Regions from separate parts of the Homo sapiens genome. Here regions 1, 2, 4 and 5 are each linked to region 3. Evidence: fine-mapped expression QTL. A gene starts in region 3. Each other region holds a variant in brackets. All regions are shown on one strand. Distances are from middle to middle.

Region 1 (5,108 bases), 240 kb before region 3:
AGTAGAGAAGGCAGAATGTGGTGAAGAGCCTGAGAAAAGAAACAGCTGGAAGAGTTTAAGGAATTCAAAAAAGGCCACTGAATACCATGGAGGAGCTCAAAAGAAGTTTGGGTTTGGATCAGGCAGGGCCTGTACCCTGTGGCCTGGGCAGTGTTTGCTGGAATGGTGTAGCCCAGTGAGCTGAGTGTAAGCACCTCTTCCTAGCCCCATTTTGGTAGCTCTACGCTGGCCATAGTGGGAGTATTCATTCATTCCATCCTGCCATGAAAATCTAGGCCCCACTATGAAAATCAGGGTCTTTTTTCCTGGGAGCTGATGGTTAAACATTCATGAACACACCTTTGGGGTTATTCTACTACTTTTTAGATTTGTTGCATTTCCCTCCAGGGTTCAGGAGACAGAAACTATCCCCACAAACTAAACACCAGCCCCAAAGTTAATATTATGTCCCTTTTTCTTTTCTTTTCTTTTCTTTTTTTCTCCCTATATCACCTAGGCTAGAGTGCAGTGGCACCATCTTGGCTTACTGCAGCCTCCGCCTTCTGGGTTCAAGTGATTCTCCTGCCTCAGCCTCCCAAGTAGCTGGAACTATTTATATTTTCAGTAGAGATGGGGTTTTGCCATGTTGGCCAGGCTGGTCTCAAACTCCTGATCTCAAGCAATCTTCCCACTCGGACTCCCAAAGTGCTGGGATTACAGGCATGAGCCACTGCTCCCAGCCATTTTTTTTTTTTTTCATTTTTGTCAGCTAACATTCCTTCTCATTTATTGGAATTAAGTTTTGATTTTTTTGAAGGAAAAAATTGTAATGAAATTTTTTTCCTCTGTTTTTGATCTCTTTATTTTACATGACTGGACATTTTAGAAAATTAAGATAAAATTGTGCTTTTACTATGCATTTGAAACTACTTAGTAGTTTTTATGAAGCTATCAACAAGGAACGTAACTGCTGTATTATAAGCTGTGGAACTGAATAATTTAAATGTTTAGAGCTTAAGACTTTTTTTCTTTTCTTATCAAGGGATATGTATGCATTTCCATTATTAGAAGAAAAGTGCATGGATATTTTGTATTGCTTCTGGGTTAAGAAGACAGTCATTTTTATTCTGTTCTATTCATTGCATTTCATTCTATTTGTGACAAAAAAAAATCTGGGAAACTTTTTCTCAACTATAGATGCCCTCCTTAAATATAAAGGAAGTGCCGGACATGGTGACTTATGCCTATAATCCCAGCACTTCGGGAGGCTGAGGCGGGTGGGGTGGATCACCTGAGGTCAGGAGTTCGAGAGCAGCCTGGCCAACATGGTGAAACCCTGTCTCTACTAAAAATTAGCTGGGCGTGCTGGTGGGCGCCTGTAATCCCAGCTACTCAGGAGGCTGAGGCAGGAGAATCACTTGAACCTGGGAGGTGGAGGTTGCAGTGAGTGGAGATTGTGCCACTGAACTCCTGCCTGGGTGACAGAGTGAGACTCCATCTCAAAAAATAAATAAATAAATAAATAAAAATAAAGGAAGCATAGCATATTTAAAATGCAAGAGCTAAAAGGATTGGCTAAATTTAAGATACCTTTAGGAGCTACGGGCTGAGGACAATAAAATATATGTTTTTATGCATCTATTTAGGAAATATTTGTTTATCTTGATGATGTTATGCCAATACGGTAGCTTTTAAGTTATTTCTGAACTTAATAGTCTGTGAAGGCAGTAAGTGAAATATCTTTCTGCAACTATTGCAAACACTCATTATGATCAAAATAGTTAATACTTTAAAAATTTGTTGGTGATGTACAATGTTATGATAAACATTGTGGTGATTGCATTAAGGAATACAGTTTTTCTCTACCTCCCATGCAAGAAACAAATATTTCACATGGGTTTAGTAAAACGCAAGGCTCATCTATTTGATCATTTAAAAATTTTGAATTATATTTATTGAAACATGACATACTGTGCTCTTATACCTCAATTACATTTTGTTCTGTTTTCCAAGTTCATGTCTTATAAATCTCTTGTATAAACTGTAGGTTAAATTCAAAATAAAAAATCACAGTGTAAAAAAAATCCATTCTTTGCTGCGGAGAATGGCATGAGTAAATTTAGGAAGGCCAGTTAGGAGACTACCGAAGAATCCTAGGGAGGAGGACA[T/C]GATGGCTTGAGCTAAGGTTGTGTTAACAATTCACACACAGGAAATGAAACACACATGTAAAATCAGAGAATTGAAATCTTTAAATTTCAAATTAGAATTGGATATATCAGTGGGAACTCATGAGTTTTTCCCTCTCTTTAAAAACGTATTATTTTACAGCTTTATTAAAAATGCCTCAAAATAAGGAAGGCCTAAAAGCAATTGTCCTTCCCAGTGCCCAGAATGTTCCGTGTTCTGGATTTAGTCAATTGCTTCCTCCTGGCGTCTTTTAGCTTGATTTTCTCTTTCTTGTTTTGCCTGTAGATTGGAAGTTGGATCTGAAGACTCAATTTGATTCAGCTAAAATCTTAAAATTTTTGACAAAAATACTATACATGTATTGCTTTATACTTCACATCACATCACATCACATCAGGAAGCACATAATGTCTGGTTGTCTCATTTTAATGATACTAAGGTTGACTAGTGATTATAGGTGGTTATGGCCTGATATAATATTCCCTATTATCCTTTATCTAATTGTTTTAGCATTCATTGATGTTTGTTAAGTCATTGGCTTCATCAGGGCTTTCTAGATGGTGCCTGCCTGACTGCCTGCCCACCCGCCTACCGTCCTCCTTCTCTCCCTCTTTCCTCCTTTCAAAAAACATCTTTACTGAGGTGCAACTGACATATAATAAACTTCACATTTTGGCCAGGTGAGGTGGCTCACACCTGTAATCCTAGCACTTTGGGAGGCTGAAGTGGATAGATCACTTAAGGCCATGAGTTCGAGACCAGCCTGGCCAACATGGTGAAACCCCGTCTCTACCAAAATACAAAAATTAGCCAGGCGTGGTGGCGGGTGCCTGTAATCCCAGCTACTCAGGAGGCTGAGGCAGGAGAATTGCTTGAACCCAGGAGGCAGAGCTTGCAGTGAGCCGAGATCACGCCATTGCACTCCAGCCTGGGTGACAGAGTGAGACTCCACCTCAAAAAAACAAAACAAAACTGTACATTTTAAAATGTACAATTTGATAAATATTGACAAAGGTATATATCTGTTAAACCATTGCCACAATCAAGACAATGAATATATCCTGTCTTGACATTTCCTTTGCCGTTTTGTGTATTTGAAAATTTTTTTTCTTTTCTGTTTTTTTTTTTTTTTTTTTTGAGACAGAGTCTCACTCTGTCGCCCAGGCTGGAGTGCAGTGGCACGACCTGGGCTCACAGCAGCCTCCGCCTCCCGGTTTCAAGCAATTCTCCTGCCTCAACCTCCCGAGTAGCTGGGATTACAGGCATGCGCCACCACACCCAGCTAATTTTTGTATTTTCAGTAGAGACGGGGTTTTGCCATGTTGGCCAGGCTGGTCTCGAATTCCTGACCTCAGGTGATCCTCCTGCCTAGGCCTCCCAAAGTGCTGGGATTACAGGCGTGAGCCACCATGCCCGGCCGGAAATTTTCACAATCAAAAGTAAAAAAAAATATGAGGCAGATCAACAGGGCTTGGTAATTGAATGCTGGTAGTTAACAAGAGAAGGGTCTTGGATGACTCCTGGTTTTGTGGTATAAGTCACTGAGTAAATAAATGGTAGTACCATTTATTGAAATTGAAAACACTGGAGGAGAAAGTTGGTGAGTTCAGTTTAATACATGTTAAGTTTGAGGTCACAATGGGACATCCAAGTAGAAATGTCAAGTAGGCAGGTGGTTAAAAGGAACCGTCTGAACTGGAGACGTACGTTTGCAAATATTGGCATTTAGTAGCTGAAGCCAGGGTGTAGAAATTATCTGAGAGTAAGTACAGAATGGAATGAATAGGCTTAGAGGGAAAAAAGCTCTGAAAAATTCAGTGTTTTATGATCAGGTAATAGAGGAGGATGAAGGAGAAAAATATGAGTGTATAGTATGGCAGAAGCTAGGAGGAAATAGGGAGAGAAGATGCCAGGTGTGCTGATTCCAATAAGTCATATTCTGTATATCAGTTTTACTTTTCTCTCAGAAGTAATACATAAACATTATGATCTATGCACCAGTAAATATGGGCACACTCCTGAAAGACGTGTCATCTTTAGTGCACTAACAAAATTAAATTTCTGAGCCTGTAAAGCTGAGGACTGGACTGTGAGCTCTGTAAATCAACCAAAGTAAATGATACCACGGGATACTCTTGGTACTAGTTGGCTAGCTTTGTTGGTGACCTCTAAGCCTTAGGAAGTCTTTCTTTAGAGCATTTATAGTATTTATTAATTTTTAAAATGAGTTATATGAAAATAAAATATATTTCTCACTGATATTGGATAGGCTAATATCCACTGCTAGCCTATCCAGTATCAGCGGGAAAGTTGCAATAACCCCAATTTTTTTTTTTTTTTTGAGACAGAGTCTCACTCTGTTGCCCAGGCTGGAGTGCAGTGGTACGATCTCGGTTCACTGCAAGATCCGCCTCCTGGGTTCACTCCATTCTCTTGCCTCAGCCTCCCAAGTAGCTGGGACTTCAGGCACCCGCCACCATGCCTGGCTAATTTTTTGTATTTTTAGTAGAGACGGGGTTTCACTGTGTTAGCCAGGATGGTCTGGCTCTCCTGACCTCGTGATCCACCCGCCTCAGCCTCCCAAAGTGCTGGGATTACAGGCGTGAGCCACCACGCCCAGCCAATAACCCAAATTTTAATCCTGTAAGATTAGGCAAGGGAAAATAAATTCCTGACATCAGTTTCACTTGAGAACATTTCAGATATGAGCAGCAGCTTTTTATTTATTTGTTGTACATGAGAGAGTATTTATTGAAAACATGGTTACTGACAGGAAGCTCCTGGCTGCTCTCTAGTTACAATCTTGGCTCACAACTGGAAGTGCTACGTACTTTTTACCTTCACCCTATTTTATTTTCACCCGAGTTTCCATCCTAGATAGGTAGATCTTATATAAATATATATACACGTGTTCATAAGTATGGCCTATAAATATATAGTAC
Region 2 (5,108 bases), 41 kb after region 3:
TTCAGCAATTTTGAACTATATGATACCTCATTATCAGCTATAGTTACCTGGCTGTGCAACAGATCACCAGAACTTATTCCTCCTGTCTAACTGAAACTTTGTACCCTTTGACCAACATCTCCCCCACCACCCCTCCTCCCTACCGTCTGGTAACCACCACTCTATTCTCTACTTCTAAGAGTCTGACTTTTTTAGATTCTACATATAAGTGAAATCATTCAGTATTTGTCTTTCTGTGGCTGGCTTTTTTCACTTAGCATAATGTCCTCTAGATTCATATATGTTGTCACAAATGACAAAATTTCCTCTTTTTTAAGGCTGAATAGTATTCCATTTTGTGTGTGTGTGTGTGTGTGTGTGTGTGTGTGTGTGTGTGTGTGTATATATATATATATCACATTTTAAAAAGTCCATTCATCTGTTGATGGACACTTAGGTTGACTCCATATCTTGGCTGTTGTGATTAACGATGCAGCAATAAATATGAGAGTGCAGGTATCTCTTTGAAATAGTAATTTTGGTTCCTTTGGATAAATACCCAGTAGTAGGACTGATGAATCCCAAAGTAATGTTTTTTTTTTAAGGAAATGATGATTACTCTTCATGACGTCAACCTTAAAAGGTTAGGGATACCTTTTAGCTACCCTCAATGTCCTCAACAGATTAAAATGCCAGATTATTTTGACAAAACCTGAAATTTGATCAATAAAACCATATAGTTTCTTTCACAAGAAGAGTTAAAAATATGGGTGCAAATTATTTTAACTCTAAAGTTTTATAAATTGAAAAATCACCAGATTAAAAAAACTCAAAAACCAAAACCATCTCAAAAAGACTAATATAAGTAAGATAAAAGGAAGAAAAAGCAAGGGGACCAAACAAACCCCCCCTCCCCCCAAAACCAGAAACAACTCAGGAATTCTAAAATAAAATGACAAAATAGAGTGTAGTAACCTAACAATTCTAAATTTTAAAATGGGTAAGTGGGTTGCTGAATAAATTAAATTTCCCTGTGAAATACTATCAAAACGGGTAAATAAAGAAAATTTTGGATGCAGATGACTTTGTCACTGCATGCAGAGTGACCTTCTATAAGGCAGATGTAATCAATACTCTCTCTGCCTAAAACCCTGCAATAGTCTTTAGGATAAAATCCAAACACCTCAATGGCTTACAAAGCCTTTCAAAACCATGTCTATTTCTCTAGCATGGTTGCCATCTAATTAAATATTATTTGAGTACCTAAAACAAACAAACAAGAAACAGGTATCTCTCTCATCTCTAGGTATTATCTTATGCTCTCTCCTCCCTGCCTTTTCTCCCCTGCATTCCAAGAGTCTAACTCAAATCTCAGCTTAAATTTTATCTTCTGCCAGCATGCCTTCCTTGCCTTCCTCAGACCAGAAAGACACCTACAGCAACATTATCACATCACTTTTCAACTCTATTCCAAGTGTTTTGGTTGCTTCCCCTAGAAGGGCTTAGACAAGTTTAAGACCACAATCAAATGAGGAAAAAAAAAAATCGATGGATTTGACTGCACCAAAATAAAAATTTCTATGCAACCCAGGATATCAAGAACAAAGAGTAACATACATATGACAGAATGGGAGATAACATTTGAAATGTTTAAGACCAATATAACCACAATATGTAAGGTATCTTAGAAATTAACAGGAAAAAAAAGGTTAGCAACTCCAATTGAAACATATCAATGAATTACAAATAGACATTTTCTATGAAATGTAAAAGGTCATTAGTCTATGAAGACAAAAAGAAAACTGAAACAATCATTTAGAATGTCAAATAACCTATAGGAAAGGCAAAGATGTAAAAGCTGGATAATGCCAAGGGCAGGCAGGGATGCTGGGACACAGGAACCCTAGGGACTGCTGGGGCTGTGCAGACTGTGCAGATATTCTAGAGAGCACTCTAATACTGTGTAGTCAGATTAGGTAACGATATATTCTATAACTCAGAAATCCTCTACCTGCGTATATATCCCAGGGAAATTCTCACTCAAGTCCATAAATAAAAACACATGAGGATATGCACTGAAGCACCTTGCTGCATAAATATTAATAATAGTAAATGCTACCAGCACAAGCTAACATGTATAAACAAAACCACTTTTCCCCTCATTCACCATTTTATTTGTTAATCTTTAGGTAGATAACCAAACACCATGTGCTAGGTACATTATCTTAGAGGTACCACAATAACCATCATTTTATAGATAAGGAAACTGAGGCACAGAAAAGCTAAGTAACTCATCTAAAGTCACACAGCTAGTGAGCTTTACTGGGTACAATTCAAACCTAGATAATATTACACTAGAGTAAGGGTCAGCAAACTATTGTTCATGGTGCAAATCTGGCCTTTCACCTATTTTTTTAAATACAGTTTTACTGGTACACACTCACATTCATTTACATATTGTCAGCGGCTACTTTTGTGGTACAGCAGTAGAGTGGAGTGGTTCCAACAGAGGTTGTGTGGTCAGTAAAGGCTTAAGTATTTATTATTGAATCCTTTACACTTAAGGGCTGCCAACCTTGGCCCTAAAGTAGCAT[C/G]CAATAGAACATTTTCTGTGATGATGGGAATGTTCTCTATCTATACTACTCGATATCCACATGGCTATTGAGCACCTGAAATGTGAATATTGTGAATGGGGAACTCCATTTTTAAATTTAACTTTAAATTTAAATAGTCACACGTGGCCACAACTGTCAAGAACTATAAAGGGTCTAAGATTCTACCCAACTTGGCAACTAACAGGTGAACATGTCAAAGTTCCATTGGTGCTGGCTAAAGACATGAGGCTTCTGGGGGCAGAGATAAAGGACTTTATTATTTTCAGCACAGCAGGCAGCATGAACTTAACATTCCTATTAATTCCCTTTGCTCCCAAGTGCCAAGAAGATGACATGAAACAGTCCAGTGCAGTGAATTCTTATAATTCTGCATACAAGCTGGACTTTCTCATACAAAAAGCAGGGCTCATTCACCCGACACAGTTTCCAGTTCTATACCTCAATGTGGTTGATCCAGATATCTGCCTTATATAAATTCCTCCTGGTAACCACCTCCCTATGGGCCATCTACATATGGCCTACCTGACTGACCCCCCAACCCTCATACCGCACATGGACTACACAGACATGCCACAGTGACTATCTCTCAGTCACTGTGTGACCTCCTCAATGCATGCCTGCTTGCTTTAAACCCACCAACTAAAACTCTGTTTGGATAATGCCCTGGACCCAATAAAGGCGTTGGCCCATGGGTCCCTTTCTCTCTCTTCCTGACCTCCCTGTGTGGTGTTCAGGTATGCTGTGTACCCCTAGGACTTGTAAGTAATAAAATTTTTATTTCCATCTTGTGTCTCTCCTAATCATGGGAGGAGTGCTCTCTATCTTAAAAGATTCTAAATTAAAATACCCAGGTGGCTGGTGGACACACAATGGGTTTTCACCATAGCTAAGGAACCCCAAGCTTAGGAAATCCCATTCTTTTAAGAGAGACTGCAAACAAATCTGCTCCAGAGGGAGACATCATCTTTACTATACTGGACAGCAAAACAAACTTACCCTCTGCTCTGGTGGGACACACTATCTCTACCTTCCAAGACAAACACCCTAGAAAAGATAGTTTGGAACAGAACTTGTCCATGCCACTTCATGAAAGGTGTGCAGAAATGTGAGGCCTATGGAGAATTGTCTCCCAACAACACAGTAAACAGCACAGCTCTGGAGCCTATCCTATTAACCACTGCACTGTTATCGTGGGCTTGATTAGATTTCAAAGAGTCTAAAGTGTTTTTAAGCATCTTCTTGATCCTGCATCACTTGAACTAAAACAGGATACTTGGAATACAAAAATGTTATTTAAAAAATCACTTAAGAAGGTTGATTCATCTGTTGAAAAAATCCAACAGTAAAGAATCTGGGGGTGAAAAACTAGTATCTATGAGAATGCCACCTTGGACACACAATTTTAGAGCTGGGGGGATGTAAATGGACAACTCTAGTTCAATCCTTTTATTTCACAAATAAAAGACTGAGGTACAAAGAGAATAATTTGATCAAGGTCACCTCTCTGGTTTATAAAAGTAGGAGGTTTTACAATCCAGATTTCCATCTACTATTGCGTGCTACCACTAATTCATAATGGCTAAGAATACAGCATCTGATTTGAGAATTTTGAATTCAGGTTTTCCCACTTTTATCATCTCTGTAACCCTGGACAAATGCTCTCATCTTTCTAAAACTAGGTTTTCTTACCTATAAAATGGGGCCAATAATTACACCTACTTCATATGAGTTATAAGAAATTACTGAAAGCACTTAGCACTGTCCTGGCATAGAGAAAGTACTAACCCAGCTTACCTATTATTGTTGTATTATTATGTTGTGTTTTTTGATAAAGAATGGAACAAACATTCCCTCTTATACTGAGAGCATAATTAAGGTATACTACAATAGACAGTGTAATTCCACTGTGATGAGGGATGCATATATACAAGTGATTCCTGAATACTGCCTCACAACCCAAAGAGCAGTGAGAACAAATATATGACAACCATTGCCTGGAGGTAGAAAGATAATTGTTAGCTTACTGGCTTGCCCTTTAATTTCCTTATTAATTTTGCAGATACTCAGCAATAATACACTGTCCCAGAGGTCATATTAAGTCTTCATCCTTTCTTTACCTTTATAAGAAATCAGCAAATTAGCAAAAGGCAACACAATTTACGGTTTTATCTAAAATATTAACCTTCAAAATACTGCTAAAGTCATTAACAACTCATCTCTATATTCAATACCAACTATTTCTTCATCTATGGATCCTCTATAACCATCATTATAACTGACATTCACAATAGTCATGAAGAAAAAGTTAAATTCAGAGTATAACAGCTAAAAAACAATTCAATAAATTTTAGTCAAATTTTTAATTCTAACCCTAAAAGGAGTTAAATTCTATGTTATCCAGAATTTTAAAGCAAGCTTCTTACAAAGCAGATATACTGGCACTTCATGATATGTTGCTTTATATTCACCGACTTTTTTGATTTTTATTCATATCATTTTTAGTACACTCACATT
Region 3 (5,108 bases):
AGTATACGTACATTGTGAAATGGTTAACTCTAGCTAATTAAAAAATGTTTTACCTCACATAGTTATTTTAGTAATGAGAACACTTAACATCTGCTGTGTTTTTCAAAAACACAATGTTTTCCAAGATTACAATGTCATTAACTATAGCCACCATGCTGTCCAATAGATCTCTTGAATGTATTCCTCCTATTCAACTGTAATTATGTATCCTTTGACCAACATCTCCCCAACCCTCCTTCACCCCTAACCATGCCAGCCCTTGGTAACCACCATTCTATTCTCTACTTCTATGAACACCAAAATTATTTAAAGGCTGTACTTGTCAAGAAATATAAATGTATCATTTCAAGTTCAGATAATGTGTGTATTTAATTCTTATTTACCTGCCGTTTGAAGACAATAAAGCATATAGAACACAAAATTTAAACCTGATCTTACCTTTGTAAGATAATCCACTTTCAAATTGTCGATCATCATAGTTTTCTGGGATAGCTCAATTTTTAGTAACTGAATATTATGAAGTAGTTCTTTTCGTTCAATTAGCTGCCTGGTGATTCTGACTTTGCCCTCTCGCTCTTCTGATGAGGAAATATCATCCGTAGGAACTGTTGTTTCTAAACTAATATCTTCAGATTCCAGAGAACTAGAGATGTTCACTTTTTTTGACTCCTTTGAAATTTTTCGAGACATTTTTATTATTATGGATCAGTTTTCTTCTCTAATTTGATTTTAATATTCTGTAGGTTAAAAAACATTAATTCAAATGTACTATAAAATTAACTACAGAAATCATGGACTGTATTAAAGAGAGACTAAGGATTCCTTAAATAAATATTAGGCAATTTAGTGCATCCCAAATCTAGAACAGATTATTGCAGTTAAGTTAATGCTCAAATCAAACACATTAATTCCTAATATGAAGTCAGCCTTCGAGAAACTTAAAAAAACAGTTCCTGCGGGGAGGAATCTTACTTGGAGGAAACAAAGAAATGTACAAGATGAAGAAAAAAGCCCATTATAATCAAGAATGGCACCACTAAAACCAACACATGCTCAAAGATAACAGAAATCACGTCTGAGTTGGTCAGGGAAACGTTACACAGAGGTAGCACTTAGAATCTTTAAAGATTTGGACAGGCATGGTAAAAAGGAGAAATCATGCAGTTATTAATGATACGTAAGTGGAAGTAAAAAAACAAAGCCAAGTCTTGGAATAGTTACTCCTTTCACCGCCCCCCCAACACAAACACAAACACACACACACACACACACACACACACACACGCCCTTAACGATCAAGACTGGAAGGCCTTAAATGTCAAAATAGGGTTGGATTTTATTCTACAGGCAATGAGGCATCATTGAAGATGTTTTAAATAGGGAAAACGGGGACAAAAACATTTTTTATAGATAGCAGAATGAAAACAACAGGATATAAGAAAAATTCAAGAAATTCTAAATAGAACTTACTTCTAACTCTCTCATAAGAATGTTAGCAACTACCTTGTTTTAATACCTCATGATATAACAAATTATGCTATTAAATATTTCAGTTTTTCTAAACTGAATGATAAGGAAAGGTGTGTGGAGGGGAAACAGCGAGAACTATACTAAGATCGGCCTCCCTCCTTCTTTTTGAAGGGAAATAGGTAAGAAAAAGTGAATTCAAAGACAAATTCTCTCCTCGATTACAAAGGGCCCGAGACGGGGACTGCCTATACACTCGGCGTGAAAATTAAGCCCCAAACTTGGCAGCTCGGGGGATTCCTTGCCCCACGCGGGAAAGAAAGCGATGATAGTCGCAAGTTACCTCGAAAGTGTCAATTACTCCACACTGAAGCCTTGACCAGCAGCCAGTGCAGACACCGAGGGACCAAAGGCGTCTCCGGTCGGAAGCACAAGGTTGCAGGCCCTCAACAAGGGATTTCAAGGCAGGGGACCGTTAGGACCCGTAACCAAGACAACCATCTCCGCACCCGCAAGGAGGACAGAACCAGCACTCCCACAAGCCGCCGGAAGTCAACTCTCCCGGATGTTCCGAGGAGCGGAAAGCAACACACGTTGTGAGGTGGCGTCCAGAAGGAAGCCCCGCCTAGGCCACGGGCGGAAATGGCTCCTCGCCTTGCTTTGCCGCCCCTCCCCACTCTCGCCCAATCCCCGCGGCCGTCAGAGAGCCAACCAATGTTTATCTCGGCATTTTCCCGCGAGAAGTGTTACTAATATCCGGGAATGGAAAGGGAAGAACCTCCGGGGTTAGGCGTATTCTAGATTGACGCCTTTTGCTGGAAGAGCGCTGCTGGGGTTAGGATTCTGCGCGGCGAGGCAAGATGCTCAAGTCCAAGACGTTCTTAAAAAAGACCCGGGCGGGCGGCGTGATGAAGATCGTGCGCGAGCACTACCTGCGAGACGACATCGGCTGCGGTGCGCCCGGGTGCGCAGCGTGTGGAGGGGCGCACGAGGGGCCGGCCCTGGAGCCGCAGCCCCAGGACCCGGCGAGCAGCGTCTGCCCGCAACCGCACTACTTGCTGCCCGACACTAATGTGTTACTGCACCAGGTGCGTGGGCGGGCGAACCGCGGACAGCGCGGCCCCACGGGGACAAGGGGGTATGACAGGGAAACTGAGGCCCAGGGAGGCGGGTCTTTGGCAGTGTCACATACCTAGCGAAAGGGAAACCCCCTCGGGACCGAAGCTTCCTGTTCCCCAGGCCGAGGTTCTTTTCCTTGTGCTTTAAAAAATTTAGTTCTTGGAGTCGTAGTTCAGACACGTTATTTTTCTAACTCCTGGTGTCTCTTCTGCCTTAGATTGTAAGTGCCTGGAGGCCGGGGACCTGGGCTTCTGTGGCCTCCAGCCTGCGACTCCCAGGCAGCTTGTAAGTGCCTAGGAACAAAAAACTATGTGGGCCAACGTATTCCTTTATTAATACCCTTAATTCTACGAAGTCTTGTGATTGGTCTGTTTAAGTGTGCTTTTTTTAATAGATCTGAAGGGTTTAGTGACTATTGTCTCGTTTTCTATAGCCAAATAGCTTCTTGGCTTAACTTATTCAGTGTTTTTAAAACATAAAGTATTTATGCCCAACATAAAACAGGATTTTATGTTTGACAGAGCTATTTACAAATGAATATAGGAAAAATTAACTTTATCTTTCTTTAAGATTGATGTTCTTGAGGACCCTGCCATCAGGAATGTAATTGTGCTACAAACAGTTCTTCAAGAAGTGAGAAATCGCAGTGCCCCCGTATATAAACGCATCCGAGATGTGACTAATAACCAAGAGAAGCATTTCTATACTTTCACTAATGAGCACCATAGGTAGGAGGAATATTACGTTAAATATCAGAAAACCACAGGATTAGCAAAATTCGGGAGAGGGTTCCTGTGAGTAATTTATGACATTGTCAGAAGATAAGTGATAGATTTCATACCTTATTTAATTCTTACATGGCTGTGCAGAAGATAATGCTAAGTGGATCTCTCTAAGGTCACACAGGCATTGATGGGCTCAAGCCTAAAACCAAGGTCTGCTGACTCCTAGACTACAATAGGTACTTTAATTTCCAAAATGTTTTCATTTTGAATTGGTTTTAGCATGAGTTGGACCATAGAATCTTGGAAGATGAGATTTGCTTAAGTTCCTGGAATACCATATTATGTGAACAACTAACAGAGGGTAATAAAATATATGAGTTTGTGAAGTTTCTATTTTGTTTAAAAATAGAAAGTAGATTTATTCTTAATGGTCTTTTTAAAAGTTTAATACTTTGCAGCTGATTACATTGAGCAAGATTAGGTTAAGGAATAGAATTCTTTTTTTTTTTTTTTTTTTTTTTTTGAGATGGAGTCTCACTCTGTCACCCAGGCTGGAGTGCAGTGGTGTGATCTCTGCTCACTGCAACCTCCACCTCCCAAGTTCAAGCGATTCTTCTGCCTCAGCCTCCTGAGTAGCTGGGATTACAGTCACGCACCACTATGCCAGGCTAATTTTTGTATTTTTAGTAGAGACAGGGTTTCACCATGTTGGTCAGGCTGGTCTCGAATTCCTGACCTCGTGATCCACCTGCCTCAGCCTCTCAAAGTGGTGGGATTACAGGCATGAGCTACCGTGCCTGGCCAGGAATATAATTCTTTGTTGTGCTTTTAGATTCAAGACCTTTGAACTCAGTGTGTGGTCTCAAAAATATGATATTGCCTATTACGTTATATTACATAAATAATCTATGATGAGTATGGTACTTTTATTGGATTAGATCAGGGCTTCTCAATCTTGGCATTATAGATATTTTGAACTGAATAATTTTTTTGTGGTGGAAAGGCTGTTTTATACATTGTAGTATGTTTAACAGTGTTCCTAGCCTATTTGGCAGGATCACCACCCCTTACCCCCCCCACCACCACCACCACCACCACCACTCAGTTGTAATGATACAAAATGCCCTGAGGGGTGAATTCACTCAATTGAGAACCATTGGATTAGAGTGTAGACTTCTGGTAATGAAATTCCATCAGATTATGCACATTTTTAAAAACCTTAATATCTCAACTTTCTTGATTCTTATATCTCAAACTTCAATGTTCTTGTAAAGAATACCAGTAAAGCCCTTGTAGGCTTCTTATTGTTAGTACCTCCTTGAAATCCAGAAATAGCAACATCACTTGTTTTTCAGTGCAGAAAGACCCAAGTTTAAAACCAATTCAAAAATTTATGACTGTGTCTTTCACTGATGAGCTTAAAACATTAGCAGCTGGGCGTGGTGGCTTATGTCTGTAATCCTGGCACTTTGGGAGGTTGAGGTGGGCAGATCACTTGAGGCCAGGAGTTCCAGACCAGCTTAGCCAACCTGGAAAATCCCTGTCTCTTAAAAATACAAAAATTAGCTGGTTATGGTGGTACATGCCTCTAGTCCCAGCTACTTGCGAGGCTGAGTTGGGAGGATCACTTGAACCCGGAGGTAGAGGTTGCAGTAAGCTGAGATCATGCCACTGCACTCCAGCCTGAGCTACAGAGCAAGACTCTGTTTCAAAAAAAAAAAAAAAGCATTAGCAAGTGCATTCAACGATGAGGAATAAAATAATTCTAAAACTATTAATATAAATCAAATTATTAAA
Region 4 (5,108 bases), 180 kb before region 3:
CGTGCCCAGCCAGATATGGAATATTTTTATCATTATAGAAAGTTCTATTGGACAACAGAGGTATTAGAGAGTTTAAATTACTTGCCCTAACTCAAAACTAAGTACTGAGTTGAATTTGAAAACTTCCTTTTAAAATCTGTTTTTTAAAAAATTTTATTATAGAATATTTCAGAAGAGAAAATATGTAATAGCAAACCCTGATATATCTATCACCCCGCTTCAACAACGATCAACTCATTAAAGTGCTACTTTTAATCACTATGATACACTACTTTTTTGTTCTCTTCCTTAATTATTTTAGCTAAAGAAATATTATCCCTTATTCAGAATAGAACATAGAGGGGCAGTATAACCTAATGGTTAGGAGAATAGAATTAGCAAGCAGACAGATATAAAATTGAATTCTTACTCTATCACAATGTTGCATGTTCTTAGAGGACAAGTTGCTTAATTTCTCTATGGCTGAATTTGTTCATCTTTATAATTTTCTCCTACAGCTAGCTATTATTTTCTCTATATTAAACATTTTAAGCTACCTTAATTCTTAGTAAAATAAATAATCAAATAAATTTGTTTGGAGATAACTGTGAAAGGAGTAATTTTTTTCCTCAGGATTTTTATATACCTCCTCATCACAAGAAATAATGGTAAAATAAGACATATAAAAGATTCAAATTTTAAGGCCGGGCATGGTGTCTCATGCCTTTAATCCTAGCACTTCGGGAGGCCGAGGAGGGCAGATCATGAGGTCAGGAGTTCAAGACCAGCCTGACCAACATGGTGAAACCCTGTCTCCACTAAAAATACAAAAATTAGCTGGGCGTGGCAGCGTGTGCCTGTAATCCTAGCTACTCAGGAGGCTGAGGCAGGAGAATCACTTGAACCCGGGAGGCAGAGGTTATAGTGAGCAGAGATCACATCATTGCACTCCAGCCTGGGTGACAGTGAGACTCCGTTTCAAAAAAAAAAAAAAGATTCAAAATTTAATTTTAATTTTAATTTTTTTGAGACAGAGTCTCACTCTGTTGCCCAAGCTGGAGTGCAGTGAAATGATCTCAGCTCACTGCAACCTCCGTCTCCCCGGTTCAAGCGATTCTCCTGTCTCAGCCTCCAGAGTGGCTGGGACTACAGGCATGCATCACCATGCTCAGCTAACTTTTGTATTTGTAGTCGAGACAGGGTTTCACTATGTTGGCCAGGCTGGTCTAGAATTCCTGACCTCAGGTGATCTGCCTGCCTCAGCCTCCCAAAGTGCTGGGATTACAGGTGTGAGCCACTGCGCCTGGCCAAAAAATATTCAAATTTAACAGAAATATGTAACATAGGAGGAAAAAATTCTATTTGGGGTTCTTTCTTCAATTTCCCTAAGATAATCAGGTGCCCAGTGAATTGTGAAAGACATAATTTCTATTGTCCCCAAGAACTATTTATAGAACAATTAATTTATTATTGTAGGTTGTATACAGAATTTTTAACTTTAAAATTAATCTAGAAACAAACTTATTTATTTTGACACATTTAAGGTATAAATGTGCTCCTAAATTATTTAAACAAATCATAAAAAATTAAGAACAGGAATAAAGTTCTAGACCAATTATTTTGGTGGGGTAGAAATGAAAGAAGGTAATTACTGTGATTCATTAAAAATAACATTTATACTTTGGAATTAGTTACCAATAGGTTTATATTTTTGTTTGCATACTTTAAGAAACCTGGATTTAACAACCATCTTCTCCTTATTGTTTTCCAATTCCTTGATTTAACCATTTCTATTCCCACTTAATTCTCTGCTTTTACATTGATAATCAGTTAATAATTTACCCATAAAAATCTAAATTATTCTTATAATCTTGGAAATCTAGTAACTAAGCAAACTAACCATCTATCCACAAGTAAAACTGTTTCATTTACACATATCTTCATTCTTTAATTTCAGTTTAAAAAACCAAACTGGTCATAGCAAATTTTTTTTGGATAAGATCTCATACAGAAACAATTACAAATTAAGGAAGTGAAAGAAATTTATTTATTTACACTTAAAAGTTACTTTCATGTAAAAGGTCAGAAGAAAAGCCTAAAAATTCCTTGGAAAAATCAACATAAATCTAAGTAAATGTAAATTTTTTGTTGTTGTTGTTTAAAAAGCCATTTTAACGACACAAATGGCATCTGGTTTTATTCCTCCTCTCCCTCTGGTCAATCTACACCACACTAAAGAGTTCTAGGGAAACAAGGACCAATAGCGGTTGTGTCCTCTAGGATAGATGGAATGTTATGCTCATAAGTGTAACATTGTTATTTCCATGCTAAGACATCTGATCACAGGTGGAATGTGAACACCTGATGTGATGTGACCTTAGTTTTTCTAAGAAAAGTTTAATATTCATTACATTTAAGACACCTTCATTATTTAAATTTTCTGTTCATGATTTACAACCCAAATTCACCTACAGCAGCAATATGGTAACAATGTCTTTATTATTCAAATAAAAGATTTGTAGATGGTTTACCTGACATCTTTCTCAAGTTGTGCAATAGATTCCGTCAGTGAATCAATCTTAGAATCTCTCTGACGCACTGATTCAA[T/C]GAGATACCTGTAAGGCTGTTGAGTCTGGTTTAATAGCGAATTGGCTCTGTCAAGCTAAAGAAACACAGGTTTCATTAAAATCTAGAAAATGTGACAACAAAATAAAATCATTCAAAATGCTCTAGCACAAATATAGTACAGAAATTCCTTTGACATGAATTATTCTGAAAAGCTTTTCCTGTGTAAATTTGAAGGTTTTAAGAGTGAATCAATATAGCTATTCTTAATAGCAACTATAAACAATAATTTTTTTTGTTTTCTTTTTTTTGAGACAGTCTCGCTCTGTCGCCCAGGCTAGAGTGCAGTGGCGCGATCTCGGCTCACTGCAACCTCCGCCTTCCAGGTTCAAGTGATTCTCCTGCCTCAGCTTTCCGAGTAGCTGGGATTACAGGTGCCTGCTACCATGCCCCACTAATTTTTGTAATTTTAGTAGAGATGGGGTTTCAGCATGTTGGCCAGGCTGGTCTTGAACTCCTGACCTCAGGTGATCGCCCACCTCAGCCTCCCAAAGTGCGGGGACTACGGGTGTGAGCCACCTCGCCTGGCTGAAAAAATTTTAAATAAAATATTAATAGCAATTTTGAGAATGCATAAACTTAAATTTTCTTAGTATTTGTCTTGGTCTGAAAAGCTATATGACATAAAATATATCTTTTTAAAATGGAAACACTTAGCTAAAAGTTAAACTCTTTTATTTCAGCTTTACTTCTACTAAAAATATTCACACCATAATTCAATAATTTTTTCATTTCTTCATATTCCCTTGTTTTAAAAATACATAATTTATATATCCAAATCATTATGTATAAATTTTTGACAAATGTGTTTTAAAATATAATGTAAAATTTACCATTTTAATCATGTGAAAAGTGTACAATTCAGTGGCATTAAGTACATTCATAATGTTGAATAGCTACCACTTCTATTTCCAGAACACTTCCATCAGCCCATATGGAAACTCTGTACCCATTAAACAAAAACTCCCCATTTTCTCCTCCCTCCTGGCCCTAGAAACCTGTATCTTACTTTCTGTCTCTGTGAATTTGCCTATTCCAGATACCTCACATAAGTGGAATAACACAATATTTGTCCTTTGCTGTCTGCTTATTTCACTTAGTGTGACGTTTTCAAAGTTCATCTATGTTGTATCATGTATCAGAACTTCATTCCTTTTAATGGTAAATAATAGTCCACTGTATGTTTATAGTACATTTTGTTTATCCATTGATCTCTTGATGAATACTTGGGTTTCCACTGTTTGGCTATTGTGAATAATGCTGCTATGAACATTGGTGGACAAATACTGTATATCTTGAGTTCTTGTTTCACTTCTGTTGGGTAGCTACCTAGAAGTGGAGTAGAACTGTTAGGTCATATGGTAATTCTATATTTAACTTTTTGAGGAACTGCAACGGTTCCACAGTGGTGATACCATTTTACATTCCTACCAGCAAGAAATTTGATTACAATTTCTCCACATCCTGGCCAAAGCACATTATTTCATGTGCATACTGGGCATTTGTATATCTTCTTTGGAGAGAAGTCTTCCCAAGTCTTTTGCTTGTATTTTAATTGTGATTTTTCTTGTTGTTGTTGCTGAGTTGTAGGAGTTCTCTATATATTCTTAATAATATAGTCTTATTAGATATGTAATTTGCAAATATTTTCTTCCATTTTGTGGGTTGTCTTTTCACTTTCTTGATAATCTTATTTATTTACTTACTTACTTATTTTGAGATGGAGTCTTGCTCTGTCACCCAGGCTGGAGTGCAGTGGTGCGATCTCAGCTCACTGCAACCTCCGCCTCCTGGATTCAAGAAATTCTCTTGCCTCAGCCTTCTGAGTAGCTGGGATTAGAGGCGTGCGCCACCATGCCTGGCTAATTTTCATATTTTTAGTAGATACGGGGTTTCACCATGTTGGCCAGGCTGGTCTCGGATTCCTGACTTCAAGTGATCTGCCTGCCTTGGCCTCCCAAAGTGCTGGGATTACAGGCATGAGCCATTGGGTCCGGCTGATAATCTCCTTTAACTCACAATTTTTTATAATTAGGAAATTCAATTTATCTATTTTATGTTTTTGTGCTTGTCCTTTTGCAGAAATTGCCAAATCCAAGGTTATGATTTTCTCCTATGTTTTCTTCTATGCATTTTATACCTTTAATGCTTAAATTTAGGTCTCTGATCCAGTCTGAGTTAGCTTTTGAATATGGTGTAAGGTAAGGGTCCAACTTCATTCTTTTGCATGTAGATACTCAGTTTTACCAGCCCCATTTGTTGAAAAGACTGGCTTTTCTCCATGAAATGGTCCTAGCACTCTTGTTGAAAACGACTGGCCATATAGGCAAGTGTTTACTTCTGGGCTCTATTCTATTAATATTCCGTGGGTTTTTATGTCCATCCTTATTCTAGTTGCACACTGTTTTGCTGACTGTAACTTTACAGTAAGTTCAGAAATCTGGAAATCTGAGCCCTACAACTTTGTTTTTCCTTTTAAAGATTGTTTTGGCCATTTAGGGTTC
Region 5 (5,108 bases), 150 kb before region 3:
CACAAAAGTCCAGAACTCACTACTAAACCTATATGTAAACGTCATCCAACTTCAAACATTATTAACATTTTGTGATTCTTGTTTTATTTGTTAAGCCCTTCCTCCTTTTCTCATGAAATATTTTAAAGCAAATTCCAGGCACCATACCATTTCACATCATAAATATTTCAGCATTTAAGTCTTTTTCTCAATATAAGCCATAGCTTATTTAAAAATGGTTTCATACAAAGTTAATTATACTTAATTATAGGAGCATTTAACACTTAATTTCTTACATTTTCTCCCAACAATTTATAGACGTGTGTTCACATTTAGAAATTCTTTCTTTTTATTTTTGAGACTAGAGTTTCCCTCTGTTGCCCAGGCTGGAGTACGATGGCACGATCTCAGCTCACTGCAACCTCCGCCTCCCAGGCTCAAGTGATTCTCGTGCCTCAGCTTCCCAGGTAGCTGGGATTACAGGCATGTGCCATCATGCCCAGCTAATTTTTGTATTTTTAGTAGAGACAGGGTTCCACCATGTTGGCCAGGCTGGTCTTGAACTCTTGACCTCAAGTGATCCCCCTGCCTTGGCTTCCCAAAGTGCTGGGATTACAGGCATGAGCCAGTGCACCCGGCTTCTTTATTTTTAGAGATGGTGGATCTTGCTTTGTAGCCAAGGCTCAAACTCCTCAGCTCATGTGACTCTCCTGCCTTGGCCTCCGAAAGTGCTGGGATAATAGGCATGAGCCACTGCATCCAGCCCACATTTAGAAATTCTTATTTCAATTAACTGAAATGCTCAGGAAGGCATGTATTTTAATATTTTACTTTTAAAAAATATTTTTGAAAATTACTGTGAAATTAAAGGCAACATGAGGGATCTACAATATATTAGCAAACAGAGGTTTGTTTGTTTGTTTATTATCTTTTCTGCTTCCACCTAGCAGTGTGCTGGACTTGGCTTGCAGCAGCTTGTAGGAGTTCTCTATTATTTCATACAAAGACTTGTACATGAATGTTCATATGAGCTTTATTCCAAAAACTGGAAATGACTCCAATGTCCATCAACAAGTAAATGGATAAACAAACTGGTACATCCACACAAAGAAATTACTCAGCAATGAAAAGAATGAAGTACAAATGAATCCTGAAAATTTTTAGGAATTTTGTGGGCTGGCTATCAAACACAACTAGCATTAAAAACTAAACTAAATTATTTAAATTTATAGTAAAATACATTTTATTAAAAACAAAGGTAAAAACAATCAAATTTGTCAATTTAAAATTATTTTACTATTATCTGTGCTCTTGAGTTTACCTATGTCTGTTGTATCTGTATGGTGCAAACATTAAGTACTGGTATGCTGCTGACAATCTTTACTCCATCTTCAGTAACCTTAGGTTGGTAGTTTGAAGTCAGCCATGGTGGGAGTATTTATAAAAGAGATACAAGCCAATGTTACAAATCAAGCTCTCCCTCATATCCCTCTTGGAAAGCTGGCTGTTAACATTTACCAACACACCACTGTGTCAACCCCAAGCATTAACTATGTGTCAGGAACTGCAATAAAATGAAGTATTTCTGGTCTTTCGAAATTTGAGGATAAAGATCCTCCTAATGTTATAGTATGAAAAGACACTCTAAAGAATATAAACAGATCCTTAAGAAAACAAATAATAAACAACATATATTAATGTTATTTAATGTATGACTTGAAAAAACCCTTTGTTATAAGAGAAATAGTTTTTAAAACTTTTAAAATATTAACTTCTTGGCTGGGTGCAGTGGCACATCTCCAATCCCAGTACTTTCAGAGGCCCTAGGCAGGTGGATCGCTTGAGCCCAGAAGTTCTAGACTAGCCTGGGCAACATGGTGAAACCCTGTCTCTACCAAAAAAATACAAAAATTAGCCAGGCACAGTAGTGCGTAGCTACAGTTCCAGCTACTTGGGAGGCTGAGGAGGGAGGAGTCCTTGACCCTGGGAGGCAGAGGTTGCAATGAACTGTGATCATGCCACTGCACTCCAGTCTGGGCGATAAAGCCAGACCCTGTCTCAGAAAAAAAAAAAAAAAAAAAGAAAGAAACAAAGAAAAAAACGGAAAAACTTCTTATGTTGACACTCAGGAATATTAAATAAATAAATAAAAGGAACATTAGCAAAGTAGTACCTCCGGTTTAAATTGTTTTATGACTCGCATTTCAAAAGTACAGAAAAATAAAATTAGATCTTGACATCAGAAGATGATTAAAAATGCTATGTAAAATGCATACATATATATATATATATATATA[TATAC/C]GTAGTTTAAATGACATAAGGCTAAGAAAAAGAAGCAATATGAGCCTGATTTTCTAAGTGTAAACAAAGTTAAATTTAACAGAGGAGTGATTTCTCATTAAACACAGAGGTAAAAACCAAATCTATCTTAAAAATGATTAGTAAAAAACTTAAAATGTCACCAAAGTTTGCCAAACCTGTTTTACCAGTTGATATTCTCAGAAATCAAAGCTCTGTCTGTCTAGTCTGCATTTATACTTAGTCTGGGCATTTAATCTCCCTTTTGTTCTCAGTTTTGCCATACACTGTAAGTTGTTTTTTATGGCCTTAACATTCAGTTAGTTTCATAAATTGTGAAATCATTTTGTACTAGCAAACAGCTTATTTTAAAACTGCTTAGAAAAATAAAAGAGTTACAAACAATTAAAATGAATACTGTGATTCTTCATATGGGTTTCTTTAAGTTATTTACCTCTTGTGAAAGCTGTGTTACTTGGTCCTTTCGATGTTCCAGATCTTTTAAAATCAGCGAGTTTTGTTTTTCTAATTGAAGCACTCTTCTTGCCAAGTGAACACTAGGCAAATGAAATAAGAAAATTAATGCTTAAAAGTGAAATACTGCCCAAAATATTCAAAATGTGTTTGTGTACTTGAAAATAGACATCATTTCCTAATTATACTTAAATATTAACAGAAAAAATATAGAGTCAAATAATATTTTCAGGCACCAGTAGTGGAAGACCAATACCCCACAACTCAGAATTATGAGAGTAACAACATTAAAACATAACCGTGATAGACTGATTACTGCAGTAACGGTTTTTAGCCCTTGCTATAAAAGTGGAGAGGTAACATTATAACACTTGCTTGAAAAGACCACAATACAGCAATTTACAGCTTGTCTCCACTTTTATAAATATTTTCCAATTACAAATCAGAAAATTAGTTGAAATATTACAAACAATAATTAGCTTATCACTTTGAGAAGTATCAGAGTTTACTTTAAACAACATAATGCATGTTATAATATAAAACAAAAATGAGGTTTTTAATTGAAAGTGGAGATGAAAAAGATATATAAAACTTAGAGAATGTCTATAGTAAAGGCTAAGCTTCTGTACTAAAAGAAAAAAATCACTCCCTCTGATGCTCTGCATTACCATAACTTATTGCACTGACCTTTAGTATTTAAAATTACATATGAAACATCTCAATTCTACTTTTAAGAAACAATTTTAAGAATAAAATCTATTCCTTCTAACTATGGTGGGAGGAAGTGGTATATTTCTTTAAAGAACTGCTAATAATTTTGAGAAGACATATTGCTCCAAAGAACCTCTCTGCATTTCCAGTAACTTAACATTTTCATATTTATCATATTTTCATATTTTATACTAGTTAACCTATTAATCTGTGAATTGCAGAATCCATGGAATCCTAGATGGAATGTTTTATAATGACAAAAAGTAAGATAACTGTGCTTTAAATAAAATCATAGGGCAGAAAAAATTCTATTGTATTTTAATATTTCCCAATATCAGATAAAGAAATGCAGACAACATTCTAAAAAATAATGTTAAGGCCAGGCGCGGTGGCTCATGCCTGCAACCCCAGCACTCTGGGAGGCTGAGGCAGGAGGATCACTTGAGGCCAGGAATTCAAGACCAGTATGGGCAACAGGGTGAGACCCTGCCTCTGCAAAAAATACAAAAATTAGCTGGGCATGATGGTGCATGCCTGTGGTTCCAGCTACTTGGGAGGCTGAGATGGGGGGATCACGTGAGCCCAGGAGTTCGAGGTTACAGTGAGCTAGGATTGTGCCACTGCAATCCAGCCTGGGGTGACACAGAGACCCTGTCTCTAAAAATAATAATAATAATAAATAGTGTTAAATATCATTCTATATATCTATTTCTAAGAACTCATACCAAATAAAAAAGATGAGTTCTGGCAAAAGTTTATAAAGTGATTTGAGTTGCTTGTTTAGATCTAAAATTCTTTCAACTGGCATTAGAGATGGAAAAAGCATACAGTCCTCATTTTTTGACAACCACTTTTTTTTTAAACTTTACTGACATACAATTTTACTGATATGCAACTTAAATATCATAAAGTCCACCAATTTAAAGTGTACAATTCAATGATTTTTAGTATATTTAGAGTTGTGCCACTATCACTATAATCTAATTTTAGAGCATTTTCATTATCTCAAGAAGAATTTCTGTGTCCATTACCAGTCACTCTCCATCCTCCCCACATTCCAACTTCCTCCTTTGCTCCTCAAATTCAACCTTAGGGAACCATTAATCTTTCTCTCTTTATAAATTTTTAAGGAGTTTACAGTTTATGACTATATTGTTCTTCATTTCCCAATAAAAATATACTAAGTTCTCTCTAATTTGACCCTAAAATAACAAGATTTCTACAAATAAAATAAGCCTTAATGTGAATTTTGCATTTAAAATCCGTTGATTCCATTATACGTTTGCAAGCATCAGTTTATCATTAGCTCTATTTTTATTAGGTTAATTAAAAAATCTTGGAGCTATCTTTATTCACATTTTTATTCTTGCTTTCTTACTCTTCATACATGTTAGGTGTTAACTTTTTTTTATCTTTTTGTGTCCCACAGAACTTCACACTAGGGTCACTTAAACATGGTAATTTTTCAATAAATATGTTGAAGGTGTAGAACAAGTATGTGTATACTCAGTATAGAACAATAAACACAATCAAATGCAATTACACAGAACTAGAGTTACAAATGAATGAAATGGAAGACAAAGACATGCAAGAAAATGAGATGCAGAGGTCACATATTACCAACAATCTGAACAAGATAATGACTT

Which allele goes with the higher level. Positions count from the first base shown, and alleles are read on the strand shown. Sizes are in standard deviations (SD) of each study's normalised expression. Not every link is listed here.
For the expression in fibroblasts of the gene that starts at base 2,027 in region 3, allele G in region 2 goes with a higher level than allele C (small effect, 0.40 SD a copy in GTEx).
With allele C in place of T in region 4, the expression in monocytes after interferon gamma of the gene that starts at base 2,027 in region 3 is lower (large effect, 1.2 SD a copy in Fairfax 2014).
With allele C in place of TATAC in region 5, the expression in NK cells of the gene that starts at base 2,027 in region 3 is lower (large effect, 1.2 SD a copy in Gilchrist 2021).

What was found. PIP is the estimated chance that this variant, and not a neighbour inherited with it, causes the effect.
Region 1: its variant is fine-mapped to the expression of PIBF1 in lung (TOPMed, PIP above 0.99). The same link has a PIP of 0.9 or more in esophagus mucosa and stomach.
Region 2: its variant is fine-mapped to the expression of PIBF1 in fibroblasts (GTEx, PIP above 0.99).
Region 4: its variant is fine-mapped to the expression of PIBF1 in monocytes after interferon gamma (Fairfax 2014, PIP 0.95).
Region 5: its variant is fine-mapped to the expression of PIBF1 in NK cells (Gilchrist 2021, PIP 0.90).

Annotation. Positions count from the first base shown.
Region 1 is chr13:73,019,519-73,024,626 of GRCh38, reverse strand. No RefSeq gene overlaps it. Among named protein-coding and RNA genes, the nearest start is that of KLF5, 37 kb to the left of the region's middle. The variant T/C (reference allele first, on the strand shown) is at 2,148.
Region 2 is chr13:72,738,041-72,743,148 of GRCh38, reverse strand. It overlaps BORA (BORA aurora kinase A activator), which reads right to left. Exons shown (of 12, transcript NM_024808.5): 5 at 5,106-5,108. Among named protein-coding and RNA genes, the nearest start is that of BORA, 13 kb to the right of the region's middle. The variant C/G (reference allele first, on the strand shown) is at 2,574.
Region 3 is chr13:72,779,052-72,784,159 of GRCh38, reverse strand. It overlaps PIBF1 (progesterone immunomodulatory binding factor 1), which reads right to left and starts at 2,027. Exons shown (of 18, transcript NM_006346.4): 1 at 1,811-2,027; 2 at 439-737. The coding sequence starts at 690. DIS3 (DIS3 exosome endoribonuclease and 3''-5'' exoribonuclease) reads left to right here and starts at 2,260. Exons shown (of 21, transcript NM_014953.5): 1 at 2,260-2,555; 2 at 3,157-3,314. The coding sequence starts at 2,328. RefSeq lists enhancers at 2,127-2,236, 2,154-3,068 and a silencer at 2,517-2,566.
Region 4 is chr13:72,962,807-72,967,914 of GRCh38, reverse strand. It overlaps PIBF1 (progesterone immunomodulatory binding factor 1), which reads right to left. Exons shown (of 18, transcript NM_006346.4): 15 at 2,511-2,641. Among named protein-coding and RNA genes, the nearest start is that of KLF5, 94 kb to the left of the region's middle. The variant T/C (reference allele first, on the strand shown) is at 2,587.
Region 5 is chr13:72,928,891-72,933,998 of GRCh38, reverse strand. It overlaps PIBF1 (progesterone immunomodulatory binding factor 1), which reads right to left. Exons shown (of 18, transcript NM_006346.4): 14 at 2,732-2,834. Among named protein-coding and RNA genes, the nearest start is that of KLF5, 130 kb to the left of the region's middle. The variant TATAC/C (reference allele first, on the strand shown) is at 2,277.